Linked DNA regions of Homo sapiens. The protein of the gene in region 5 purifies or fractionates together with the protein of the main gene of each other region. This does not show direct contact. Each region holds a gene or a part of one and is shown on either strand. Other genes may lie near its edges. The genes, in order: SPIN1, SMARCA1, MYO1C, LYZ, GRK5, TOR4A and MYO9B.

Region 1 (3,500 bases), on a different chromosome or scaffold from region 5:
TTGAATGGTTCCCTTCTTGATTCATTCTGAACTCTCCCTTTGGCCCAGTGTCTACTAGTTTTTCAAGCCAAGAACATCTGTTGAGTAACAGGTATCTCAATTTTGCCATACTTCCTTTCTGCATAGGTAGCAGCGTTCTTACTTCTACTCCTGAGGCAAGCCATCTCTGATGTCCTGGAAGGTCGTTTCTCTTCTATCCAGTTGTTGGGATGAATCTTCTGGTAGAAGGGAAGGGAATTTGGTACTAGGGTTGAAAGTCACGCTACTGAAGTTCTTTATTGACATCTCTGAGCAGAAGAGAGGCCCGAGTCGTCCTGGGGATTTTCTTCACTGAGCATTTGTGAAGATTCTGGGGTCAAGGTTGGGTTAAACTTTTGTGGTGGGTCCATCCGCGGTCTAGTCAACAGTACTAAGCTCTTCCTGCATCTTTGGGACCCAGCGGGAAGTGATGCCAGCTCTCAAATTGCTACAAGGTATCCTGGAAAGAAATCTATGACCCAGAAAGAGCCTGAAAACCCAAACTCCAGCAAATATTGGTGAAAGAGCCAACCCGCAAAGCCTTTTAAAACCTTGAATTCCTTACCTATAAACTGGGATAAAACCTATGGTGTAAGTCTGTTCTGAGAATTACATGAAATGGATTTATAGAGTTCTCAGTACAGTTCCTGAAATACAGCAGCTGACGCCAGTAGATGTTGATTTCCTTCTCCTTTCTACTTTTGAACTTAGCTGTAGTTATTAGCATTTTTTTAATGTTGAGGTAAACAGTTTCCTTAGTTGTGCATCAGTATTCAGTCCAATTTAATGTTAAATTATGTTTTTACTGGGAGCCTGTTCATGACCTTAAAATTGCCGTAAACCCTTTATAGAACAAGTCGTGTTTGGCTAAATATATAAACACAGATGTATCCTTACAGACTTTATAGTCTGATAGAGGAGATACACATGCATATAATGAGGGAATTCTGTGCTGAAGGTATCTGGGAAGAGAAGGTGATTCCATAGATTATCAGAATGGGAGAAGAAAGACATCTGGATGGAGGGGAAAGCAGGAACAGAGGCATGAGAGGAGTTAAAGAGGCCATCGGGGATTTCAATCCCAGCCAAAAGTTAGCCCCTTGTTACCTGTCTCCTCTCCTCTCCTCTCTTCTCCTTCCTTCCCTCCTTCCTTCCTTCTTTCCTTCCTTCCTTCCTTCCTCCCTCTTTTTCTACCTATCTACCTAGCTACTATTTTCTATCTATCCTCCTTTGTGAGTGTGTTTATGTATAGCAGGGGACGAGAACACCTACCTCATCAGGGGTGAGCTTAAATGAAGTAAAATGTTTCATAGGCTCCTGGTGTACAGTAAATGCCCAGTTGATATTGATGATGATGTCACCACTGCCTACACCACCTGTAGTTTCTTTCCTATGGCTGATCTGTCTAGGGATGAATTTGGGGGCCACCTTTTAAATTCTGCATGTAACATTAAGGTGGTTGGTGTTGAATTTGTAGGCAGAGGGAAACCATTGAAAGCAGGGGCAGGATTGGACCTGTGTTTTAGAACAGTATGAAAGGTGAGTTGGAGGAACCTGCCCATGTAGGATCTTTAATCTCCAGAGTCTAGCCTGTTAGAGAAGCTGGTGAAGTCATTTAAGGCATGGGGTATTGGTCTGAACTCAGAATATTTAATGTTATGTTAAATGTGCTTTTTTTTTTTTTTTTCCTGAAGGGAGGGGAGGAGGAAGAATTTACTCAATGTAAATATTATTTTATCCAAATGGTGAGAGAATACATGAAAAGACTAGTAAGGCATCTTTTTACCATTTGAGATGTTATAGTAGCGTGTTAACAAAATAGGCAATTTTTTTTTTAAAACTAGGTTATATTTCTTTGTAGTTGTTTATGCTTGGGCCTGTCTGCAAATGATTTAACAAATCATATCATATATTTGAATTACTGTTGCTTAACCTGACACAGGCAATAAGGAGAGAAAAGAATGTCCTTTTTCTTGCTTTTGGGTTTTTTTTTTTTTTTTTTTTTTTTTTTTGAGACGGAGTCTCCCTCTGTCACCAGGCTGGAGTGCAGTGGCGCAGTCTCAGCTGACTGCACCCTCCACCTCCCGGGAGTCAAGCGATTCTCCTGCCTCAGCCTCCCGAATAGCTGGGTCTACAGGCATGTGCCACCACACCTAGCTAATTTTTGTATTTTTAGTAGAGACGGGGGTTTCATCATGTTGGCCAGGATGGTCTCGATCTCTTGACATTGTGATCTGCCCGCCTCGGCCTCCCAGAGTGTTGGGATTACAGGCGTCAGCCATCTCTCCAGAGCTGATTTTTTTTGGAGGGAGGGGTTTGAATTACTTTTTTCTTTCTCTCTTTAGCATCATTGTAGACCCATGGATTTTTATGTATCCAATGTGTGTTTTTGGTTTTTTAAATTTTGAGACAGTCTTGCTCTGTCACCCAGGCTGGAGTGCAGTGGTGTGACCTTGGCTTACTACAACCTCCGCCTCCCGGGTTCAAGCTATTCTCCTGGCTCAGCCTCCCAAGCAGCTGGGATTACAGGCGTGCACCACCATGCCTGGCAAATTTTTTGTATTTTTAGTAGAGATGGGGTTTTACCTTGTTGGTCCAGCTGGTCTCAAACTCCCAAGCTCAAGTGATCCTCTCACCTCAGCCTCCCAAAGTGCTGGGATTACAGGTGTGAGCCACCATGTGTGGCTTTATCCAGTGTTTTAATCAAATACTCACTGTTTTTCCTTAGCTTTTCACAACTTGGACATGTTGAGGTCCTTTCAACCTGGTTCTCTTTCCTTTGACATGACACGTAATCTCTGAAGCTTTTCTTGCTTTCTGACACAAGATGTCTAAGGTTCACTTTGTGCTTTTCCTGCCAAATACCTATCAACCGAGTCTTTCAGCTTGCTTTATTGAGGATTAGAATTTAGATACAGAAATCTGGGTGTTATATGTTCTTACTGTTAGAATGCCCATGCTTTTATTGGACAGCCATGGGAAGCATACAGATTTTGATTTTTATATTGGTATTTCCAGTTCGAATTTAACATCACAGAGTTTTTACTATGAGCTTATCCTTTTTTCTCTAACGTTGAAAATTTACATTCTTAGCAACATTAATATAATTGCATTATCTTACAGTATAAATGTAGTTTGAAAATAACACTAATAAGCAACTGTAGCTTTATGTTTGGTTATGGTTTTTTCCTTAAAATATATCCACATAAGCATGTACAGTTGACATTCTAATTTGGAAGGCCATTTGAAAAGATTTTCTCTGATTATGTTATATGTTTGATAATTAATTTGGGTTGTTTGCCTGAAATTCTTCCTTTAAGAATTGCTTTAGTTTTTTATTTAATGTATTTTTTTTTTTTTTTTTTTGAGACAGAGTCTCGCTCTGTCGCCCAGGCTGGAGTCCAGTGGTGCGATCTCGGCTCACTGCAAGCTCCGCCTCCCGGGTTCACGCCATTCTCCTGCCTCAGCCTCCTGAGTAGCTG
Region 2 (3,500 bases), on a different chromosome or scaffold from region 5:
AGCTGATGCTGGAACAAATTAAGACTTTTGAGGACCATTGGGATGGAATGATTATAATCTGCAATGTGAGAAGGGCATGAGATTTGGGAGGCCAGGGGCAGAATGCTATAGTTTGGATATGTTTGTCCTCCAAATCTCACATGGAAATTTGATCCCCAGTGTTGGAGGTGGGGCCCAATAGGAAGTGTTTGGGTCATAGGGGCAGATCTCTCATGAAGGGCTTGGTGTAGTCCTCGAGGTAATGAGTGAGTTCTCTCATTCTATTAGTTCCTGACAAAGAGCCTAGCATTTCCCTCCTCTCTCTGGTACTGTCTCTCTCTCTCTGTCTCTGCCATGTGGTCTCTGCACACACCAGCTCTCCTTTGCCTTCTGCCATAAGTGAAAGCAGGCTGAGGCCCTCACCAGAAGCAGATGTTGATACCATGCTTCTCTTACAGCCTGTAGAACCATGAGCCAAATAAACCTCTTTTCTTTATAAACTACCAAGCCTCAGGTATCCCTTTACAGCAACACAAATGTGCTAAGACAGTAGATATACCAGTTACCCTGATTTGATCATTACACATTGTATATATGTAACAAAATATCACTCTGTATCCCATAAATATGTACAATTAGTATGTGTCAACTAAAAATAGAAGGAAAAAATAATAAAGTCTATTTTTTTAAAAATGCACTGTGGGATACTAGATTAGATCCCCTGGAATCTAACACCAGTTAATTAGATAATTAACCAATGTCCTTTTCCTGGCACAGGAAAGGACATTAGGAGAAAAACTGGTGTTAATTTCCTGGTTGTGATCATTATACTAACATGTAAATTGTTAATATTAGGGGAAGCTGAGTGAAGGCTATAGGTTAGCTCTGTACTATTTTTACAACTATTTTGTAAGTCTAAAGTAATTTAAAAATAAAAAGTTTTAAAATCTCAGCCTTAATTTCAGTTTAAAAAACAAGATAAATAAAACCCCCATTTCTTCAACAGACCACATGTAACAAAGTCCTTCTGCATTTAAGTAACTAAATGTTACTAATATTATTATTCATACAGTTAACATTAAGTGTCAGGCATTATTCTAATAACTTTATGAGTATTAACTCATTTCATCATCAGAATCCCTCTATGATGTAACTATTATAACCTCCATTTGATAAATGAGAAAATTGAGAATACCCAGAGTCACTTAATTAGTGACAAGAGTTGAGATTTCAGCTCCAGAATTCAGGAATTCAACCTCAATCCTACACTGCTTCTCAATAACAAAAGTAGTACTAAGCAGTAGTAGTAGTAGTAGCAGCAGCAGCAGCAACAGCAAAAATTGATGATGATGATGATGATGATGATGACGACGACGACGATAAACCAATAAAATAAACGAAAGATATACCTTGCATGAGATATTTAGACCTATATCAAATTTCACTCTAGAGCAGGGTATTATAATAGGTAAGTGCCAGTGTTATTTTATAATTGTTATGGGGAGAAATGCTCATTTGAGGGTCTAATGGTTGAGAGTAAAAAGTTACCTTCTGTTTTTCTCTATAATCTTCTCCCTCAAATTTGTATAAACTTTGTTCAATGTCCATTCTAAAATTTCTTAGAGAAGACTCTCCCATTTTTTGCAGGCGTTCATTCATCTCTGCAGTCTAAAGGTGAAAACATTGAAATGAGAAAATTATCACTGAATTACTTGTAAAAGTCTGTGGATTCTCTACCTTTTTAATAGTCAGGTTTTGACATGAAATATCCAGTCTGCTAATTTACAAGGTATGAATGCAATGCTAACATCAAACCTGAAGTGCAAATTTTACTTGCCCAAGTATTTCAAATATTTAAATGGTGCTTCCCAAGTACTCTCACTTAGGCTTTCTTTAAAATCTTTTGTCAGTGAAGTTGTACCCACATTATAATTGCTCTTGCATAATTTAAATGGGACAAATAGCTAAAGCTAAGAGAAAGGCAAAGATGGACTAAAAATACACATTTTGCATACTGGTATGAAACATATTAACACAAGATCATTTAAAATGCAGGTTATTACCTGAACTACAAAATTCTTCTGAAAAGCAAATTCAACCAGTTTACAAGATATGCAACAAACATAGTAAAATACACCATGGAGATGAAATCAGCAAAATCCACACTGTGATTAACTCAAAAGGCAAACAACCTAGTCTTTTCATCAAATAAATTACAAGGAATACAATACATGGCAGGAGAGGGGGCCTATAGATTTTAAAAGATAGAGATGAAATCTCAACCATGGCAATTTGTATTTTGATTTGCATTCTGATTTAAAAATGAAAAGAAAACTTTTTAAGTATAAATATTTACGACACAATTGTAAATTTGAATACTAACTGGATATTTGGTGTTATTAAAGAATTATTGGGGTTTTTCAGGTGAGACAATGTTATAATGATTATCTTTAAAGAGTCCTTCTATTTTAGAAATACACAGTGAACTATTTACAGCTGAAGTATGTCTGAGATTTGCTTCAAAATAATCCAAGGAGGGGAAAGATAACTGGGGATATAGACAGAACAGGACTGGTTGATGGTTGTTAGAAACAGGTGATAAGTACTTCGGGGCTCATTATACTACTCTGTCTACTTTTACTTATGTTTAAAATTATCCATAATTTGTGGAGAGGGGAAGGTGAACTAAACACAAAATTACAATATTCTGAAACAACTTATTATGCTTTAACAAATAGTGATTTAGCATTTCATGAAATGTTTTATAAAAGATTTTCAATTAACCAATGTATCAGTAGATGATTTCTAGTCCAGTGCAAAAAAAAAAAAAAAAAAAAGATTATAAAAATACAGTCCTGGTCAGGCATGGTGGCTCATGCCTATAATCTCAGTGCTTTGGGAGGCAGAGGTGGGAGGCTCACTTGGGGCCAGAGGTTCAAGATCAGTCTGGGCAACACAGCAAGGCCCTGTCTCTAAAAAAGAAAATTAATTAGATGTGCATGTTGGTACATGCCTGTGGTCCCAGCTACTCAGGAGGCTGAGGTGGGAGGATCACTTCAGCCCAGGAGGTGGAGACTACAGTGAGTTATCATTGCACCACTGCACTCCAGCCTGGGTGACAGAGCAAAACCCTGTCTCTTTAAAAAAAAAAAAAAAAAAAAAAAGCATTCCTTATACATGTGATTAAACACAAAATTTACTTGGCTTTTAGATATAGTATTTTCAATAAAGCATTAGATATAAGGTCACTCAATTTTAAACTCTGGTTCTTAGTCTTTCTCACCAAAAAAAAGTTTTAAAGCCTTAATCTACCCCTGGAAATAGATCTACAAGTTGTTGGAGAGAATATGAGCTACCTGAAACATGTAGATAATGCAGATAAACATGTACAATGAAAATATAAGTATGCTGAAGTATGTTGATATTAAAACAATCCAGCATGAAAATAAAATGCTATTTTAACTAACCTTCTTTTCCCCTCTTTCCAGAATAGTTGTAATGTCTTCATCTGTCAACTCACT
Region 3 (3,500 bases), on a different chromosome or scaffold from region 5:
GCACTGGGCTTCTCTCCCTGCCCTCCCCTCCCCTCCTGCACTGGGCTTCTCTCCCTGCCCCTCCCCTCCCCTCCCACACTAGCCTTCTCTCCCTGCCCTCCCCTCCCACACTGGGCTTCTCTCCCTGCCCCTCCCCTCCCGCACTGGCACTGGGCTTCTCTCCCTGCCCCTCACCTCCAGCACCGGGTTGCTCTGTAGCAGCCGGTCCCGCACGGCACCTCCGCGCTCGGGGGCTGGGCAGGTCTCTGCATAGAACTGCAGCAGCCTCTTGGTGGCCTCGGTCTTGCCTGCCCCGCTCTCCCCAGAGATCATCACAGCCTGGTCCCGACGCTCCGTGCGCAGTGCTCGGTACACAGTGTCCGCCACGGCAAACCTGGGGCGGAGGCTCGTCAGGGAGTTTGGGGAGGGGGGCCAAGCAGAGCCCCACGAGAGTCCCGCTCCCACATCTGGGTGGAGTCCTCTTGTGGGAGTCGAATACACCCTTGAGGATGGGGACTGGGGGTCCCTCACAGGTGTGGGCCATGGGAGATCCGTCATAGCTGAGAATGGGCGTCACCGCCAGCGGGAGGACTGAGAGGCTCTCACAGGTGGGAGGCTGGAGGTCACTTAGGTGGAGGCTGGAGTCACTCACGGGTAGGGCTGGGGGGGGTCTTTGCAGGTGGGGTTCAGAGGTCACTAAGATTGGGGGGCCACTCCCAGTTGGGGAATAAGTCATGGGTGTGAGTCGGGGTAGGGACTGAGTCCCACCCACATGGAGCTGAGTTGCGACATTCATCTCTGGTCACTGGGGGGCAAGAGACTGTGGGATTCCTCACAGATGTGGCGCGGGACGCCAGGATCATTTCAGAGTAAGGTAAGGGTTGGGCGGGGTCACCTCAGATGGAGACAGAGGGGTCGCTCCCGGAGGGGCTGGGGTCACTCACAGGTGAGGGGGCACTTCATAGAAGCTGACGCCACGGTAACGCTCCATATGCTGCCGGCTGTAGATCTGCAGGTCCCGGTAGGGATTGACAGAGACCAGGACGGGGCCAATGTAGGTCTGGGATCGGGGGAAGAGGGTCCAAAGTTTATCCCGGGCCAGGTGCGATGGCTCATGCCTGTAATCCCAGCACTTTGGGAGGCCAAGGTGGGCGGATCACCTGAGGTCGGGAGTTCAAGACCAACCTGACCAACATGGAGAAATCCGTCTCTACTAAAAATACAAAATTAGCCGGGCGTGGTGGCGGGTGCCTGTAATCCCAGCTACTCGGGAGGCTGAGGCAGGAGAATCGCTTGAACCCGGGGGGAGGAGGTTACAGTGAGCTGAGATCGCGCCACTGCACTCCAGCCTGGGCAACAAGAGTGAAACTGTCTCAAAAAAAAAAAAAAAGTTTATCCCGGTGACCCTTGGTGTCTCTTTCCCCTCCGCTTGCCTGTGTCTGTGACCCCAGCACCCCTGCCATCTCCCCACAAGGGCCTCACGTAGATGAGATTCTCCCGAAATCGCCGCCGCAGGTTCTCGATGAAGGCGGCCTCGCTGGTGAAGTTCTCCAGCAGCACGAAATCCTGCACCCCCACCCGGTCACGGGCGGTGAGCGCACTCTCCATGGTCACCCGAACCCCGTCACTGCCCAGGGCCTGCAGAGAATGGGCCACAGAAGAGGGTCAGAGTCATCGGGGGCGGGGCAAGGCCACTTCCCTGCGCCTGTGGGACTGAGAGGGAACGTAGGGGCTTGTGGACTCCGGGCTAGACACGGGACATGAGCATGACGGGTGCGGGGGGCCTGGGTGCTGAGGGCCTGGGTGTGGTGGGCCGGGTGCGGAAAGCCGGGTGTGGAGGGCCCGGGTCCCAGTGTGGCAGCAGAGGGATCACCGAGGCTGCGGGCACAGAACAGAGACAACATGAACCACTTGGGACTCGGACACAGGGCATGGACGCAGGCAGGACCAGAGGGCAGAACCCGGGAGGTGCTGGTTTTGGGTGGAGAAAGGGGGGGTCACAAGAAGGAACTCCTTGAAATAGCAGAAAGACTGCTCTGTTGAGCTTGGACCAATCCCCTCCTCTCTCTGGTTCCTTCCTCCTAAAGGAGGAGGAGTTGAGTTAGACCAGGTGACCTCAGGTCCCTCAGCTCTGAGCCACGTGTGACAGGTGCTTTGGAGGACAAATGGCTCAGGGTCAATTCTGCAGGCAGGGTGGGGCCGTCTCTCCCACCCAGACCCACCCCCACCTCCACCGGTAGAGCGTCGAGCACCAAGCAAGAGGTTACTCCCAGACTACACCAGAGGGGTTCCCCCAGAGGGCCTCCCACCCCAGCTGGGCTCAGCCACCCACTCCAGAACGCGGGGGAGGCCCTCCCTCGCATGGCTGGGGCCACTCCCTTTCCTCCAGCTGCTGGGCTCCCCAGGCACCTCCTCCACTGAGAGTCCTGAGAAGCCTCAGGGGATGGGGGCTTTACCATGGAAAGCCCAGCTGCCTCTGGGTCCTACTGGAGGGTGGAGGGTGGTGCAGGCTGAGCAAGACCCTCGCCCCACAACCAGGGCTGAGATGGATCCCTCTTCAAACAGGGTCTCAGGGCTCCAAAAAATGGACACCCAGAGTATCCAGGGTCAGAGAAGAACAAGGTGGTGGTGATTGGGGGTGGATCCCAAAGGGGCCGCCGGTGTCCTCTGACCACGAAAGGCCCAGATTTCTGGCCGGGGGCCTGCCCCTCCCAGGCTTGTCCTCACCGCCCCGCTCCAATCCCGCGCCGAAGCGGCTGCCAAATCCGGCCGCGGTCCCCGCCCCCTCGCCCTCGGGTCAGGGGTCTCCGCGTTCTCAGGCGTCCCCGGCGGCTCCTCATCCGGCCCCGGGTCCGAGCGTCCCGCGCCGCCCTCCCCGCCTCGGCCTCCTCCCCCTGCAACTTCCCGGGACGTTTTTCCACCCGGAATTCCTGGGCCGCGCCCGCTTCCTGGCGAGGCCGAGGCGACGCCGCGAGGTGGGGAGGGACGCCCGGGACCCCCCGCCCTGCCCCGCCGCCCCCAGGCTCACCGACGCCCGGTAGCGCATCCTGCCCGGCCGGCCTGGCGCCCGCTCCGCTGCCCGCGCTCCGGGTCCCGGGCTCGGCGGCGGTGGCGGCGGCGTCAGCGAGGGAGGGCCCGCCCCCCGCACCGCCCCCACCCGGGCCCCTGAAGCGCGGGGCTTCCCCGGCCTCCCCCGCCTCCCGCGCGGCCGGGCTGGGGTCCCCTCCAGGTGGGGTTGGTGGAGGTGGGGGTGTCGGGGCGGGGGGTCCGCGGGCCGGGGGCGGGGGCGGGCTCCGCCTGAGTCAGGTTTTCCAGGAGGGACGCCGTTGGCACCAGGGTGGAGCCCGGAACCCGCGCGGCCGCCGCGTCTACACCGACCCGGAACTCACTTCCGGGCCTGGGACTACACTCCGCGGCGGGCCTGGGCGCTGGGCGGGCACCGAGGCCTGCGGGTCCCAGAGGAAGCGGGATTTTCCTCCCCCAACCCCCGAACTCGAGTCCCGGGAAAGTTAAAAATAGAA
Region 4 (4,126 bases), on a different chromosome or scaffold from region 5:
TATTTACAATAATAATTCTACAGGAACTGTATTTTTTGAAGATGTAAACTAAAGAATTTAGAAATGGAATATCATCATGTTCCTAATTCACTTAAAAGTCTCTCAGCAGTAGCCAGGTACAGTGGCTAACGCCTGTAATTCCAGCACTTAAGGAGGCTGAGGTGGGAAGATTGCTTGAACTCAGGAGTTCAAGACCAGCCTGGGCAACACAGAATTTGCCTGTACTAAAAATTTCAAAAATTTGCCAGGCATGGTGGTGCACACCTGTAGTCCCAGCTACTTGGGAGGCTGTGGTGGGATGATCACTTGAGGCTGCAGTGAGCTGTGATGGTGCCACTGCACTACAGCCTGGGGACAGGGAGACCCTGTCTCAAAATAAAACAAAACAAAACCAAACAAAAAACTCTCAGCAAAAAAAAAAAAAAAAAAAAAAAAAAAAAAAAGGCATAGAAGAAGCAACTATGGCAAAATGTTAACAACTTTTAAAGTGCATAATGGGCATATGGCTGTTTATTATACTAATGTCTCTAATTTTCTATACATTTAGAACATTTCATAAAAAAAAAAGTAAAACAATTGAAAAAGGACCATACAACTAAATTATCCCAAAACCTCCCCAAAGTAAGCAGGAGCAATGGCATTGTTCTGGACAAAGCATCAGTAAGGCCATTGACAGTAAATTAATAGGTCATTCCAGAAACTTCTGTATATTAAAAAACATCAACCTTTTATGATACCACTTCTTTAATTTCTTACTCAGGGAATTATGAGGAAAATAATAATGACTTTCTGGAAGTTGAGATGTAGTTTTTCTAGGTCCCTCATGAACCTTTCAAGGCTTTTTCATTTGTATTGAGTCTCAATTCTTGTAAGTATAACCAGATTGGTCAAATATTAGCTTGTCTTACCACTGCAGGATAAATGACAGGCATTAACTGCTCCTGGGGTTTTGCCATCATTACACCAGTAGCGGCTATTGATCTGAAATATCCCATAATCAGTGCTTCTGTCTCCAGCATTGTAGTTTGTAGCTCGTGTGTTGTAACCACTCTCCCATTTGGCCAAACACATCCCTGAAAAGAACTTATTTTTAGTAATAAACAGCAACACTAAGTGACTTATACTCTATAGCAAAATCAGTTCTACTTAGCTACTTCTATTTTACTGATTTGTTTTATAAGTATAAAGATTTACTTATAAAATATCTTAGCACTTTAGTGTTAAGATAAGGGACTTGTAAGAGAATCCTTTTGTAATGCAAATCATCTTGTAACACCAACGAACAATATAACATACTTTTAAAATATTAAAATACATGTTTGTTCCATTGCTTTTACCCTTCCCGTGCTCCCATCCCTCAGGCAACATTCAGCCAAGAACAGAAAAATCAACAGAGCTGTTGAGTAGATTTTGTAAATTCATAGCAGATACATAGGCTGATGGAAAAATGCTTTTTTTAATCAGAAAAACATAAGGATTTTCTGATAGAAATTTTCTTATAATATCTAAAGGTGAATTTGGATATCAAGTTAGAATCTTGAAAACAAGACTATTCCGTGATTTCATCCCTTCACTCATTCATTCAAAAATAGCTATTGAGGGGAAATGTCTGAATTCAATCTGAAAACTACAGAGATTATTACATCGACAACTATGTACTAAACTATAAAATAACTTTTCCTCATGGCACATCTTGAATTGTGTGGGAGAAAATGAAAGATAGTTAATCAAGTAGAGTAGATAAAAATAATAAAACATTTCATGCTGAGTTTCTGGGATCCTATACAAAGAGTGACTGAAGGGAACTAGGTTCCTACTGCTCTTGTGTAGGGAATTCAATATATTCTTTAAAAACATCACTGTTAAAAATCCCATGTCGGCTGGGTGCAGTGGTTCACACCTGTAATCCTACCACTTTGGGAGGCTGAGGTGGGCAGATCATTTGAGGCCAGGAGTTCAAGACCAGCTTGGCCAACATGGTGAAACCCCATCTGTACTGAAAATACAAAAAATTAGCTGGGTGTGGTGGTACACACCTGTAGTCACAGCTACTCAGAAGGCTGAAGCACGAGAATCACTTGAGCCCAGAAGGCAGAGGTTGCAGTGAGCTGAGATCATGCCACTGCACTCCAGCCTGGGCCACACAGTGAGACTGTCTTTAAAAATAAAATAAAATAAAATAAAAATAAAAATAAAAATCCCACATCACGGCAGGGGACTTGAAGACAAGAAAAATACTGCATCACTCTAGGCTCTCAGAGCCCAAGTTCAAAATGGGAAATAACTGGAGTCACATACCAAGGACTTGAGAGAGCTCTGCCAGGTCCTCAAATGTATCTTTCAGTCAGCTTACATGTGCCATTGAATCTCAGGCACCCAGCAAACTTCCTAGCACTAGAACAGTACAACAGGTCCTGTTTTACTTAGAATGGAATTTTCCCCTGCCATGCCCGTATTCCTTTATCGGGTATCTCTGGTTATAAAGAACCAAACTGATGTTTTTAGCCATTGTAAGTATACAAACCCACAAAGAAATAAAACATCTATTCACTCAAAGCCCCTTCTTCTTCTTCCTTCTCTCCTAGTGTCTGTTCCATACGTAGCTAATTCTCTGGAATTATGGAGAGTAGACTTACAGTTTGCTAGGCTGATTCCCCTGTAGCCATCCATTCCCAATCTTTTCAGAGTTCTGGCCAACTCACACCTTTCAAAGACCTTGCCCTGGACCGTAACAGAAAGGAGGACAAGCCCCAGAACAATGAGAGCCTTCATGTTGACTGCTAGGTCAGAGTGCTAGGCTGACCAGGGTGAGCTGGCCCCAGTATTTAACATCTTTTAACTTCCTTCTTCCCCTTGTGGTTTGGGGGCTCCACCCTTTCAGTTGTGTGGAAAACAGGAACTGTCTATTGATCCACTGACTCTAAAGAGATTTTTTTAATGCTTGAAGAGAGATATGCTGATGTCCTAAGAATTAGTCTACAGGAAAATAATGAAATGGAATTGTTTAAAGTACTGGCTCTGGAAGAATTGGGGCATAGCACTACTTCCAAGACAGGAACTTTCTTCTGTTTGATTATGAATTTGAGCAATTATAAAGAAAAAAATGACTATTTTGTGCAGCTTAAAATGAGCTGTGATTTTTGAGTAACATTCAATTTTGTGAAATTGTTTTGTATGCATTCACTTTTTTATATTTATCTTTTTTACTTAAAATTATTTTACATATCTTTTCCACAAAATGGACATGACACATGTGCCTGTTGTCTTAATGGGTGTATAGTGTGACACCACGTTGCTCAGCTAGTTTCTTACTCTAGACTCTTTTTGTTACTATAGCAAATTTTTTATTATTATAAATCAGTGTTTTACTATTATAAATAAGGTTCATGTGAACAACTTTACCAACTACCTTTTTTTTTTTTTTTTTGAGATGGAGTCTTACTCTGTCACCAGGCTGGAGTGCAGTGGCGCAATCTCAGTTCATTGCAACCTCTGCCTCCCGGGTTCAAGCAATTCTCCTGCCTCAGCCTCCCAGGTAGCTGGGACTACAGGCATGTACCACCATGCCCAGCTAATTTTTGTATTTTTAGTAGAGACAGGGTTTCACCATGTGGCCAGGATGGTCTGGATCTCTTGACCTCGTGATCCGCCCGCCTCGGCCTTCCAAAGTGCTGGGATTACAGGTGTGAGCCACCACATCCGGCCTACTTTACCAACTACTTTTCACAATACTTTGCCTCCCCTTTCCATATTAGAACATAAGGGGTCATTAGAAAGCAACAGCATTTTAAAAATAAAACCTACCCAAACATATATCCAACTAAATGCTACCTTTGAAAATAGCAATCTCAGGAGGCTGTGCACAGCTTTTAAAACAATGCTACCAGAACTCAAAAAGAACTGCACTTCTGTATCTGCCTAAGAGGACAGATTCTGAGCCACACAAAGTGTCATCACTTTGTAGTTACCCTTATTTTTCATCAGTGGCCTCTAAAGATTACCAGATTTGGTTTTAAATGACAGTTCAAGGACCCTGTTCAAAAATCAAGAATAATCTCATTTTTCAGGCTAGGCCTAATTTTGATTCTTCAATAATAAATAGGGCCAGGTGCAGTGGCTCATGCCT
Region 5 (3,500 bases):
CTGGGGGCCTGCTCTATGCCAGGGCAGAGATGAACCTGGGTGGACCCTGCCCTCTAAGAGTTCAAGGTTGGTGTGGGGAGGCTTCCCAGAGCCTCTGGAGATGAGGCCTTTATAGAGACAGCCCCAGGTGGGGTGTGAAGGGATCCCCAGACCTGGTGACACATCTGTCACTGGAGGGTAGAGGCTACCTCCTGCTTATAGTCTCCTGACATTTGGCTAATACGAAGGTTGTGAATCAGTGCACCGGCTCAGCATGGGCTCCGCCATGCCAGGAAGGTTCTAGCAATGGTCTCAGGGCTCGGCACTTTCTGGGACTCTCCCCTCCAGTCTGCTCTGGTCTCCAGCTCAAGGCTCAAGGCCATGCTGTCCCCAGCAAAGCAAACCATGGGCCCAAGTGCACGTGGACGGAAGCAGGGGTGCGGGCAGGGGTGTCCAGTTGCAGAGCTGCGACCCTTCTCTAGTTCCCAAAGCCCGGGGTGCACGCCACCGTGGAACTCAGCGGACTTTTAGCTGGAAGCAAGACCACATCATTCACATGCTCAGCGCAGAATGAAAACGCAGGGTCCATGTTCCACATTTAGAATTTTAAGATGGCAACAGAGGGCACTGAGCCAGGTGTGGGGACCCAGGGTGCCCTAGGGGGTGCCAGGTCAAGCTCACGAAGCTGGCCCTGGGTGGCTTGCAGAGGAATGTTAAGAAATGAGCGTATTTTAAAAATCTGTAATGGAACAGAAAGTTACCTGGCACACCCAAACCCCTCTTTCATGGCTATTATTTCCTTGGAAAGGTTTCCTTTTAAAATACATTGATTTTTATTTTAAAAAAAGAGTCAATGGAAGTGAAAAAGATGATGTCACTCACAGTGCTCGTGGTTTAGGAATGTGGCAGCAGCCCCGACAGTGGTGTGGGGATGGGATGACTGTGGGGGGCTGGCATGGATGACTGTGGGGGGCTGGCAGGGACGACGGTGGGGGGCTGGCAGGGACGATGGTGGGGGGCTGGCAGGGATGACTGTGGGGGGCTGGCAGGGACGACTGGGGGGGCTGGCAGGGAAGACTGTGGGGGGCTGGCAGGGAAGACTGTGGGGGGCGGGATGACTGTGGGGGGCTGGCAGGGATGACTGGGGGTTGGCGTGCAGCCTGGGGAGGGCCAGTGGGGAAAAGGCAAAGTCCCCAGCTCACAGCGGCTTCGCACTCCAGGGCCTGCAACCTTTGCTGACCTGAGGCCTCGGATGCCAGGAACAGAGGCCCTGGGCCACAGGGTACACGGCTGAGGCAGGAGGGCACCGGTGGGCTGCTCTGTGCACCTTGTCAGGCTGTGCGCTTTGCGGGGCTCTGCTACCTCATCCTCCTAATGCCCTGATTCGAAGTGGCCAGGGTCACTCCCAGGGTGACCAACTGTCCCTGTCTCCCCAGGACACAGGACTTTCAGTGCTAAAAGCAGGACAGTCCCAGGCAAAGCAGGACAGTTGGTCGCTCTGACCCTCAGAGCCGCCTCCTTCCACATGCTGCTTCCAGGGCCTGGAGCGCTTTTCTCCAGCCATGCCTGGGTGCACGCACGGAGGCCCCGCTACTCTCCCATCTTCCCGGAGGCTGCCTGTTCTCTTCTCTTGTGACTCGTATTTCTACTTCTATTTAAGGGGTTTTGCTGACACCCCTGCTCCTCTTCAGACTGGAAACAACCAACTGTTTTGTGTGCCATGGGATCTCCCTTGGGGCCTGGCACGGGACCTGGAGTGTGCTGGAAGGTAGAGGAATAGCTCCAATGCGATGACTAATCTCAGCCCGTCACCATAGCAATAGGTAGCCCAGAGGCCACAAGGATGGCCACCCGGGTTCCAAACCTTTGCCACACCCCCAGTCTGGATGCCCACATCCTCTCCAATTTCGGACATCAGCCCAATGGCACAACCGTGATGTTCATGCACTCAACACTATGTGGTTTCCTGGAACACCAAGGAGTGGCCACTCCCAAAGCCCTTGGCACTAAAAACAAACAACAAACAACACACTCCTTGCATGTGGCACTTCCCATAATAGTGACTCTCAACCCTGGCTCTACGCTAGAATCAGCTGGGGAGGTTTCAAAACTCCTGAAGCCCGAGTCTTACCCCAGACTCCCTGGGGACTGCATCCAAGGCGAGTGTTGTTCATGCTCCCCAGGCGGTTCGCCAGGCAGCCAGGGTCGAGAGCAATGCTGTGATTACCATCCTCCCCCTGCCTGCTCAAGCTCATCTGCAGATTGAGTTTGCAGCATTCAGTGACTTTCACTTTTTATTTTTTGAGATGCAGTCTCGCTCCGTCGCCCAGGCTGGAGTGCAGTGGTACAATCTCAGCTCACTGCAACCTCTGCCTCCTGGGTTCAAGTGATTCTCCTGCCTCAGCCTCCCAGGTAGCTGGGATTATAGGTGTGTGCCCCCAAGCCTGGTTAATTTTGTATTTTAGTAGAGATGGGGTTTCACCACGTTGGTCAGGCTGGTCTCGAACTCCTAACCCGACTGCCTCAGCCTTCCCAAGTGCTGGGATTATAGGCATGAGCCACCGTGCCCGGCCTACTCTTTATATTCTCAGTGGCCCCCGTGTTTCTCCAAAAAGCATTCCCTGATTACCCATCACACTGATGCCATCCCTGGCCAGACGGGGTCTGTGGTGTGGTTGCCATGGACACTGATCCGCACCTAGCAGCTTCCCAAGCCACCTTCTGTCCCAGAGGACCAGGGAATCCCCATGTATAGGGGGTGCCAGAGTTCCAAGGACGGTCCCCACCTGCCTCCACTCAGGGCGGTACTGGTAAGTGATAACCACTGGTTCTGGGAGAGGGGGACGCAGAGGCCCTGATTTGTAGCATTTGCAAATTGCTGCTGTGCAGATGCTACCACCAGATCTACTGTAAGCTACCGACGCAAAGCCATTGGACACGGAATTGGGAAGAGAGGTGCACATGAGCTCTCTGGAGATGCAGTCATTCGCCTGCAGCACACTGCTGCTCCCACGGCCTCCATAGTCCCCGGCCCAGTCCCCCTGCCAGCAAGGGGTCATCCGCGGGAGCGTGGCAGGAGCCGAAGCACAGCAGGCCTTCCTGGCTTCTGACTCCCTGACTTTAAACAGAGCAGGCCCCGGAATCACAGCACGTATCCCGCACAGATCACCCAGCCTCTGCCTGGTCTGCATCTCTTGGGCCTCTGATCCAGCTGAGAGCTCATGATTTATAGACCATGTAGGGGACTTTCAAGGACAATTCTACCTCAGCTGGAATCTTGCCTCACACACCGACTGGGGGACCTGGGGACCTCCTGGGAAGATGCAACTCCCTGCAATGTGAGCTGCTGGGGGAGGGGCCTCTTATGTTTCTGCCTGGCCCAGAACCTGGCGTCAACAGTAGTGCTCGATGCATGCATGCTGGTCAAGATGAACTGAATGTAGTGGCCGTCAATGCTCTTGAAAGCATTCCCCATTCAGTTCTCATTTCACCCTCAAATCTCCCAGGCAGGTGGGAGGCAT
Region 6 (4,299 bases), on a different chromosome or scaffold from region 5:
GCCTCCGCTCCCCTCCCCTTACTGTCAAGACACTCCAGCCTTGAGCTCCTGAAAACACGACCTGAGTGAGGGGTGGGGTGGGTGGAGAAGGCAGCCAGAGCCCCAGCACTGTCATGGTTGGCTGTGGCCTCCTCCGGGGTCATCTCCAGGGGGGCCGGAATGAGAACCCCACTTCAGCACTGAGCAACACGCGACCACCCCCAAGAGGCGGGGTCACGTCCCAGCTGTGTGACCCCGGGAATTGTTGGCCCTGAGATCATCCTTGTACCATGGGAACCCACCTCTTGGGGCCACAGGGAGAACGCACCAGACCATGCCTGGGACGCCCAGCAGGGCAATGGGCAAGTTTGGGAGGGAGGTGGCTGCTGTCCTGCCGCCCCCAGGGACAGACTCCGGACTCTGAGGCGGGTGTGGACCTGGAAGCAGAGCTCCAAGCTGATCCGCACCCACCAGCCGGGCAGCCACAAATTCACTAGAAACCTCAGGGGCCTGCACCAGCCCACAAGGTCCCTGGTCGCCCTCCTACTGCCGCCATCAACCCAAACGTCCCGTCCTGCGCCTCCACTACAGGAGGTTCACCGTGGCCACCACCTGCTTGCAGCCGGTGACGGCAAACTCGCGGCCAGCCACGCGGTAGAAGCTGAGCTGCGCGGCCAGGTTCTCCGCGCGGGCCTGGTCAGGAAAGAAGCCCTCACCCGCCATCTCGTCCCGGAAGCAGCTGACCACATCCCGCTTGTCCAGCAGCAGAAACGGCACGATGGCCGCGGCCTGCCACAGCGGATGCTCCCGGGACAGCACAGCCAGCAGGCTGGCGCGCAGGTCTTCTTCCGCCTGCGCCGCTGCGGCCTCGGCACTGCGGAAGCCGTCGGGGCGCAGGGGCAGCGCGCGGGACGCGTTCTGCAGCACGAAGCGCGTGACCTCGGCGCCACCCGCGCCACTGAGGAGCACGTAGATGGCGTTGTGGAAGTGGTGGGAGCGCTGCGGCTGCAGGAAGCCGTGCAGCTCGTCCAGCAGCGGCCGCGGCATGAGCTCCACGTCGTCCAGCACCAAGAGTGGGGTCTTCTCCTCCGCTTCGGCCCGCGCCACCACGTCGGCCACGCGCCGCGCCAGCTCCTCGCGGCAGTCCTGTGCGGCGCGCGCCTCGGGGCAGTGGTGCCGCGCATGGTATTGCAGCACGAGCGCGCTGTCCTCCAGCACCGAGCGGAAGTGGCGCGCCAGCAGGCGGCCCACGTGGCTCTTGCCCACGCCACTGGGCCCGTGCAGCGCCAGGAGGAGCGGACGACTGTGCACATGCGTGGCCAGGTAGTCCCGCATCAGCGCCACGATGCGCGATACGGCAGCGGGCTGGCCGAACACCGCGCGCTGCAGCGCTTTCTCCAGCCCGTCGAGGTCATAGCGCTGCGCGTTATCGTCCAGGTTCTCGATAGCGTTGAGAACTTGGAAGCCCACGATGGCGACTAGCAGCAGAAGGCAGCGCTGCGCGCGGCTCCTGTGCTCCACGCGCGGCCGATACTTGCGCGAGGTCTCCGGGTAAAGCACCAGGCGGCTGCGCCGGCGCTTCTTGCGTGGCGTCCTGGAGGGTAGCTCCGCGGGGCTGTCGAAGGTGAAGAACTTTGGCTGGTCCAGGTCCGCGCGCGGTGCCCGGGGGCTGCAGCCCGGCCTGGGCGCCCCGGTCCCGACGTCGGGCCCCCCACCCGGCTGCAGGAGGCGCCGTTTGCGTAGGACACACACCCGGCGGCGCAGGCGGAGCACAGCGCGCACGGGCGCGATCACGCACCGGCCCGAGGCTCGGGGGGCCGCGGCAGCAGGCTCCAGGCTGGGCTGGCCGCGGTCCATGTCGCAGGAACGGCGCTCCGCATACAGGTCGCCCTCCCTGCAACGGGAAGACGGGGAGGGTCTCTGGACTCCCGCCACTGCCCTTTCCCGCGGGCCGCCGGAACCGGTCCCCGGAGTGATCTTACCCCCTGGGAGTCCCGTGGGGTGCGGCCCGGGCTGCCCCAGGGCCAGGGGCCTGGTCGCGGCCTCGCCCCTCAGACCGGCAAGCGACCCCTCCGCCCCTCCGCCCCTCCGCCCCTCCGCAGGGCCCCGATGCAAATCTCTCGGGTCTTCCCATAAACGGCCGCGGGCCTTGAGGAAGTGGCGGGGTAGAGGCTTATCTGGTGGCCGCCCCGGCTTCCTGGAGGAGTCGTCGAAGGAGTCAGTGGCCGCCCAGGCGCCCACTGGGGTGAACAGTCACCCCCGGACCCTGCCCCCGCCCGCGGCTCCCACTGGACTGGGCCGTCTCCCAAGGAGGGGCCGCGGGAAGCAGAGGCCTGAGCGCCCAGGAGTTCAGAGACGCCCCCACACGCTCCAGAACACTTGGCGGGGGTCTGGCTGGAACTTATGATTTTGAGAATAGGCCCGGGCCCCGTCCCCAGGCTCAACCCAGGCCTCCCAGCCCCGACTCCAAAACTGGGGTCCTCCCAACACCCCTCCAGTGAACGAGCTGAGCAGTGCAGGGAGCCCCCCGGAGACTAGTGGAGGTGAAACGAAAAGATGGACAGAAAGAAGAGGCCGGTCGGAGCAAGAGAGCCACTGACTGGCAGGAACTGGGCCCTGGGCCCCAACCCACCCCCTACCTGCAGCTGGTCCACTGCCCTCAGCTCCGCAGGCCCCTGCCTGTGCCAGACGCTGGGGCCTGAGACTCCAAGCAGGAAATGCGCCTCCCAGGGCGAGGGGGTGGGCCAGGGGCCTCCTGGGCCAGCTTCGGCCTGGAGGGGCAGCGACACCTGTGGGTCCCCAGGGAGCGGCCGGCCGGAGTAGAGGAAGCTCTGGGGAGGTTTCCGCTTCTATGCAAAGGAAGTGAGTCAGGGGGTGCGGCCCAGGCGGGACTTGGGCTGGACGGAGGCGCCAAAGGGGGGAGGCCTGGCCGGCTTGCCCAGATCCCCTGGCCGGAGGTCACATTCCCGCTTCAGTTCTCTAGCGCTCAGAGCCCTCCTGGCTTGGTCAGGCTCAGGACACCTGGTGAGGCCGAGGGCCCCTGCTGCATGCTGTGCCCCCACCCTGGGCTCCTGCACCTCAGCCTGTCCTCCAGGGCCCCCACCTCCCCCAGGTTATCCCTTCCACCTGTCACCCCACACACAGGGCTTACAGCTGGGGGGAGGGGCTCCAGGCCCTGTGTAAGCAAGGCGGGAGCAAGGCAGCAGCACAGGGGGCGGGCAGGGTCCTCTGCCGAGCTGCATACCCCCAATCCCTCTCTTATTACTCCTCTCCCCGCTTTTTCATTCCCCTCCTGACCCCAATCGGGGGCCCCCCAAAGTGGGCTCATTGTCTTTCCTTTCCCCCTTCCTCCGTCCCCAGCCTGGAGCCCCCTGCCCAGGACAGGCCAGCACACACAGACGGAAGTTCTATCACGGAAAAAACCACGTGCGGCTCAGGGTCCCTGTGGGGGTTGGGGAACAAATTTAGAAACAACTTGGGCCGGGAGCCAGGAGCTGGAGCTCTGGGCCCTTCCCCCTGCCGGCCTGCCTAAAGGACCCTGGACTCCTCCTACCCTGGCCCAGCCTGGAAGCCGCCTTCCAAGGAGGGGCAAGGTGGCCGCTCCAGCCACACCAGTGCTGCTGGCATTCAGCTCAGGACCCCGCAGTCCCAGGGACGCCCCACTCCTCCCAACAGCCAGCCCGGGCCTGATGGTTCCAGCTGTATATTCCTCACACACTGCACCCAACCAGACAGGCTCCATCAGGGAAACCGGTCGTGGGTTGGGGGTTTCCATTCTCTCCAGGGTATGGGGTCCACCGGACTATCACGCTCCCCTCCAGGAGCCAGGCCTAGGGCTCCCCTCCCCTGTGCAAGGGGTGCTCGGGGGCCCGGATCCCCAATTGTCGAGGCCGCGGGGGCCGCACACACCAGGTGGAATGCTGGTGCTCTTTGGGCCCACTCCCCGGCCTCTGTGGGACCAGAGCGGAAGGAGGTTGGCTGTCCAGGCCCCGTGGCCCCAGCACGGAGGTTGGGGTCCTTTGGGGGCCTCAGGCTTTGAGTCTCGGTGCTTCTTCTGACACAGAGAGGACCCTGGAGGGGAGGCCCTCGGGCAGATGCAGGCTGACCGAGCCCTGGAAAACCTGCAGCAAAGCCTCTGCCCTGCCTCCAAGTGCACCCAGGGCTGGAGCTGCTTCTGCCAGAGGCTGGCCCAGCAAATCCTCAGGCCAGAGCCCTCTGCAGGAAAGGGACTCGCTCAAGGGGTGCCCCAAGACCTGGCCCTATGGGTCAAAGGTGAATCTGAGGCCTGGGCCAAGGCCTCACCCCCTGCACTTTCTCCCA
Region 7 (3,500 bases), on a different chromosome or scaffold from region 5:
AACATGGCTTTTACTGACTAGAGTGAGTCAGTGGCATTTTCTTGTCTTAGTGGTTCTTGGGTTCTCACTTGGGCAGTTCTGCCCCTGCCAGGGGACACTTGGCAATGTCTAGAGACAGTTTTGGTTGTCACCACTTGGGTGGGGGGAAAGGAGTGGGTGGGTACTTCTGGCCTCTGGTGAGTGGAGGGCAGGGATGCTACTCAATACCCTACAGAGAATGGTCTCCACCCCAGAGAGTGAGCCAGCCCCAGATGTTGAGTGTGGAGGGTAGGAAACCTTGCCTTAGCCCAAGAGACCCTGCCTGCCTGCCCATCTATCTATCTATGTATCTATCTATCTATCTATCTATCTATCTATCTATCTATCTATCATCTATCTATCCATCCATCCATCCTTCTACTCATTGACTCATTGTCTCTATCTTCCACCCATCCATCCTCTTTATCTGCCTTCCATCCATCTCTTCATCTGTCATCTCTATCTATCTTTTTTTTTTTTTTAGACGGAGTTTTGCTCTTGTTGCCCAGGCTGGAGTGCAATGGTGTGATCTCGGCTCACTGCAACCTCTGCCTCCCAGGTTCAAGTGATTCTCCTGCCTCAGCCTCCCGAGTAGCTGGGATTAGAGGCATGCGCCAACACATCCAGCTAATTTTTGGTATTTTTAGTAGAGACGGGGTTTCGCCACGTTGGCCAGGATGGTCTCAAACTCCTGACCTCAGGTGATCCACCCGCCTCAGCCTCTCAAAGTGTTGGGATTATAGGTGTGAGCCCCCGAACCCGGCTCTACCTATCTTCTACCCATCCGTCCCTCCATCATCTCTATCTTCCTCCCATCCATAATCTACCTATCATCTATCCATCCCTCCATCCATCAACTCTATGTTCCTTCCATCTCTCCATCTCTATCTTCCAGCCATCCACCCATCCTTCTGTCTGTCCATCCATCCATCCATCCACCCACCCAGCCATCCATCATCTCTACCTATCTTCCATCCCTCCATTCATTGTCTCTACCTACCTATCTTCCTTCCATCCATCTATCGTCGGCATCTATCTTCCTTCTATCCATAATCTCTACTTTTTTTTTTTTTTTGAGACGGAGTCTCATCTCTGTCATCCAGGCTGGAGTGCAGTGACTTGATCTCGGCTCACTGCAACCTCTGCCTCCCAGGTTCAAGCGATTCTCCTGTCTCAGCCTCCCAAGTAGCTGGGATTACAAGCATGCGCCACCACGCCCAGCTAATTTTTGTATTTTTAGTAGAGACAGGGTTTCACTATGTTGGCCAGGCTGGTCTCGAACTCCTCTCAAACTCTTGGCCTCCCAAAATGCTGGGATTACAGGCATGAGCCATCGCGCCCAGCCTAATTTCTACCCATCTTCTATCCATCCATCTCCCCATCATCTGTATCATCCATCCATCCATGCCTCTATCCATCATTACTACCTGTCTTCTATCTATCCATCCCTTCATCCATCATGTGTATCTTCCATCCATCCATCATCTATATCTGTCTTCCATTCATCACCTCTATCATTTTCCATCCATCCATCCCTCCATCATCTCTATCTTCCTTCCATCCATCCTTCCATCATCTCTATCTTCCATCCATCCACCCACCCACCCACCCACCCACACATCCTTCCCTCTCTCTCTCTCTCCCTCCCTCCCTCCATCCATCATCTATCGATAATACTCCTGGCATGTGGTAAGTGGAGGCCAGGGATGCTGCTCAACATCTTATGATACACAGGACAGCCCCCACCGCAGAGAATGATCTGGCCCCCAATACGAGCAGTGGGAGGCTGAGCAGGCCTGCTGCAGGGAAGGCCTGTCTCCTCCCTGATTTCTTTCCTTTGGTCCTGCAGGCCCTCTGGAAGAGGGAGCTGGAGATTCCAAGTCACTGACACTTGGCTTACTAAGGCTCAGGCAGAGCAAGCCCCTGCTCCTTTAACCCCGAGGAGTGCAGTTAGTCCTGTTCACCAATTAGAAACCAAGGCCCAAGATTTCTGGGCAGCAGGGACCTTGACCTGAGGAGCCACCTCTCTCAAGGCCGGGGCCTTTCTGTGTGAGCACAGCTCCTTCTGGGGACCCCTCAAGGCTCCAGGTCCCAGCCTGGGCCCTGGCTGGCTGCCTTGTCTTCACTTGGTCTTTAGCATGTCCTGCTCGTCCTCCTCCCTCAGGCCTCCCGCACACCCACTGGGCATGATTACACATGTGTTTCCAGGATGTGTGGCACTGCCCCTGGCCTTGCCCACCTGGCCTGGACCCTGGTGCTCAGACAAAAGAGGGTGTGGGGCTTACTCTGTGGGCGTGAGGGCGGCCCCTGTGGCCCGGTGTCTGTCGCTGAGGTCCAGGGACTGGCTGAGCATGGCACTAGGGCTGGCGGCGGCCACCAGCTTCTTGCCCCGCCACAGTTCCACGGCGCTGGCCAGCCGCTCGGCGTCCAGGTACCGCTGGATCTGCGTGGAGCCTCCGGGGCTGTCGGGCTTTTCCTGAACCCTTGGGCTGCCACATGGTTTGCTCTTGTCCTCGGGGGTCTCGGGGGCGCTGCCAGGGGCCGGTGGGCTGACCCTGCTGTCCAGGGCCAGGCTGGTCGGCCGCTCCAACTGGCCAGGCCTGGGGCTCCCACTGGGCAGCGTCTTCTCAGTTTCTTCAGAGACCTTGCCAACTGCCATGGCCTGGGGTTGCTCTGTGGGCTGCTTTTGAGATGTGTTCTCAGCCTCCGTCTCTACGACTAGAAGGGTTTCATCTTCTCTGCTCTCCTTTTTGTCTTCCAGGAGACTCACCCCTTGCTCCTGGGTGACCCTTCTGGAAGGTTCTCTGAGGGCACTCTCCTCCTTGCAGGACTGGATGTGTTTGTTCTGGAACTTGACGTGCTCCAGCCCTCTTTGCCGACGCGACTCACGCTTCTCCCGGCTGCTGGGGACTTTCTCGTGACTTTCAGCCGCCACGGTTTTCTGGGGTGGGAGAGTCTTCTCTGGGCTTGGGGCCTCCTTCTCAGGTGAGGAGTGCTCTAGGGGGGACCTGTCACTTGGCTGCACCTCAGGCTCCGATGCCAGGTGCCCGCCATCCTCCGCTGGCTCCGGCCCCTGCTCAGCTACCTGCTGCCCTCCAGCCGCCTGACCCTGTCCGCCCTCCTCAGCACCTGCTCTTGCGGCTTCCAGGGCTTCCCTCTCCTTCTCTTCTGCCTTCTGCTTCTCCGAGATCATCTGGCTGAAGCTGGAGTGAGGAAAAAGCAGACAGCTGGTTCAGAAACAAACACTCCCTCCACCTCCCACTGAGTTCCGATGGGACCCCCAGCCTGCGGGCTGCAGACGGGGCTTCGCCTGTGCCCAGTGGCCCTGAGAGATGCTTCTGGAAAGCAGGAATCTCCTCGATCAGGAAAGGAGGCTGAGGGTGGTGCCCCCTCAGTGTCACAGATACCCCTGCCCTGCGTCTGCCTGGCTGCCTTGTTAGGGGAGAGGACCCTTGTTGGGGCTGTGGTGGGTGGGTTCTATT

Evidence for each region.
Region 1: the proteins of GRK5 (region 5) and SPIN1 purify together in Homo sapiens (affinity purification with mass spectrometry, with the first as the bait; one large-scale study listed by BioGRID). This does not show direct contact.
Region 2: the proteins of GRK5 (region 5) and SMARCA1 purify together in Homo sapiens (affinity purification with mass spectrometry, with the first as the bait; one large-scale study listed by BioGRID). This does not show direct contact.
Region 3: the proteins of GRK5 (region 5) and MYO1C purify together in Homo sapiens (affinity purification with mass spectrometry, with the first as the bait; one large-scale study listed by BioGRID). This does not show direct contact.
Region 4: the proteins of GRK5 (region 5) and LYZ purify together in Homo sapiens (affinity purification with mass spectrometry, with the first as the bait; one large-scale study listed by BioGRID). This does not show direct contact.
Region 6: the proteins of GRK5 (region 5) and TOR4A purify together in Homo sapiens (affinity purification with mass spectrometry, with the first as the bait; one large-scale study listed by BioGRID). This does not show direct contact.
Region 7: the proteins of GRK5 (region 5) and MYO9B purify together in Homo sapiens (affinity purification with mass spectrometry, with the first as the bait; one large-scale study listed by BioGRID). This does not show direct contact.

What each region holds. Positions count from the first base shown.
Region 1 is NC_000009.12:88,391,444-88,394,943, forward strand, and holds part of SPIN1 (spindlin-1), read left to right. Parts: intron 1-3,500. UniProt on the Homo sapiens protein: Chromatin reader that specifically recognizes and binds histone H3 both trimethylated at 'Lys-4' and 'Lys-9' (H3K4me3K9me3) and is involved in piRNA-mediated retrotransposon silencing during spermatogenesis.
Region 2 is NC_000023.11:129,485,491-129,488,990, forward strand, and holds part of SMARCA1 (SWI/SNF-related matrix-associated actin-dependent regulator of chromatin subfamily A member 1), read right to left. Parts: coding exon 3,447-3,500; intron 1,648-3,446; coding exon 1,528-1,647; intron 1-1,527.
Region 3 is NC_000017.11:1,482,687-1,486,186, forward strand, and holds part of MYO1C (unconventional myosin-Ic), read right to left. Parts: intron 3,446-3,500; exon of another isoform or gene 3,369-3,445; intron 3,075-3,368; exon of another isoform or gene 3,026-3,074; coding exon of another isoform or gene 3,008-3,025; intron 2,889-3,007; exon of another isoform or gene 2,439-2,888; coding exon of another isoform or gene 2,436-2,438; intron 1,618-2,435; coding exon 1,462-1,617; intron 1,040-1,461; coding exon 924-1,039; intron 374-923; coding exon 175-373; intron 1-174.
Region 4 is NC_000012.12:69,347,055-69,351,180, reverse strand, and holds the start of LYZ (lysozyme C precursor), read right to left. Parts: upstream 2,801-4,126; 5' UTR 2,773-2,800; coding exon 2,637-2,772; intron 1,074-2,636; coding exon 909-1,073; intron 1-908. UniProt on the Homo sapiens protein: Lysozymes have primarily a bacteriolytic function; those in tissues and body fluids are associated with the monocyte-macrophage system and enhance the activity of immunoagents.
Region 5 is NC_000010.11:119,448,571-119,452,070, reverse strand, and holds part of GRK5 (G protein-coupled receptor kinase 5), read right to left. Parts: intron 1-3,500. UniProt on the Homo sapiens protein: Serine/threonine kinase that phosphorylates preferentially the activated forms of a variety of G-protein-coupled receptors (GPCRs).
Region 6 is NC_000009.12:137,276,227-137,280,525, reverse strand, and holds the start of TOR4A (torsin-4A), read right to left. Parts: upstream 2,801-4,299; 5' UTR 2,619-2,800; intron 1,874-2,618; 5' UTR 1,837-1,873; coding exon 565-1,836; 3' UTR 1-564.
Region 7 is NC_000019.10:17,194,277-17,197,776, reverse strand, and holds part of MYO9B (unconventional myosin-IXb), read right to left. Parts: intron 3,222-3,500; coding exon 2,304-3,221; intron 1-2,303. UniProt on the Homo sapiens protein: Myosins are actin-based motor molecules with ATPase activity. Unconventional myosins serve in intracellular movements. Binds actin with high affinity both in the absence and presence of ATP and its mechanochemical activity is inhibited by calcium ions.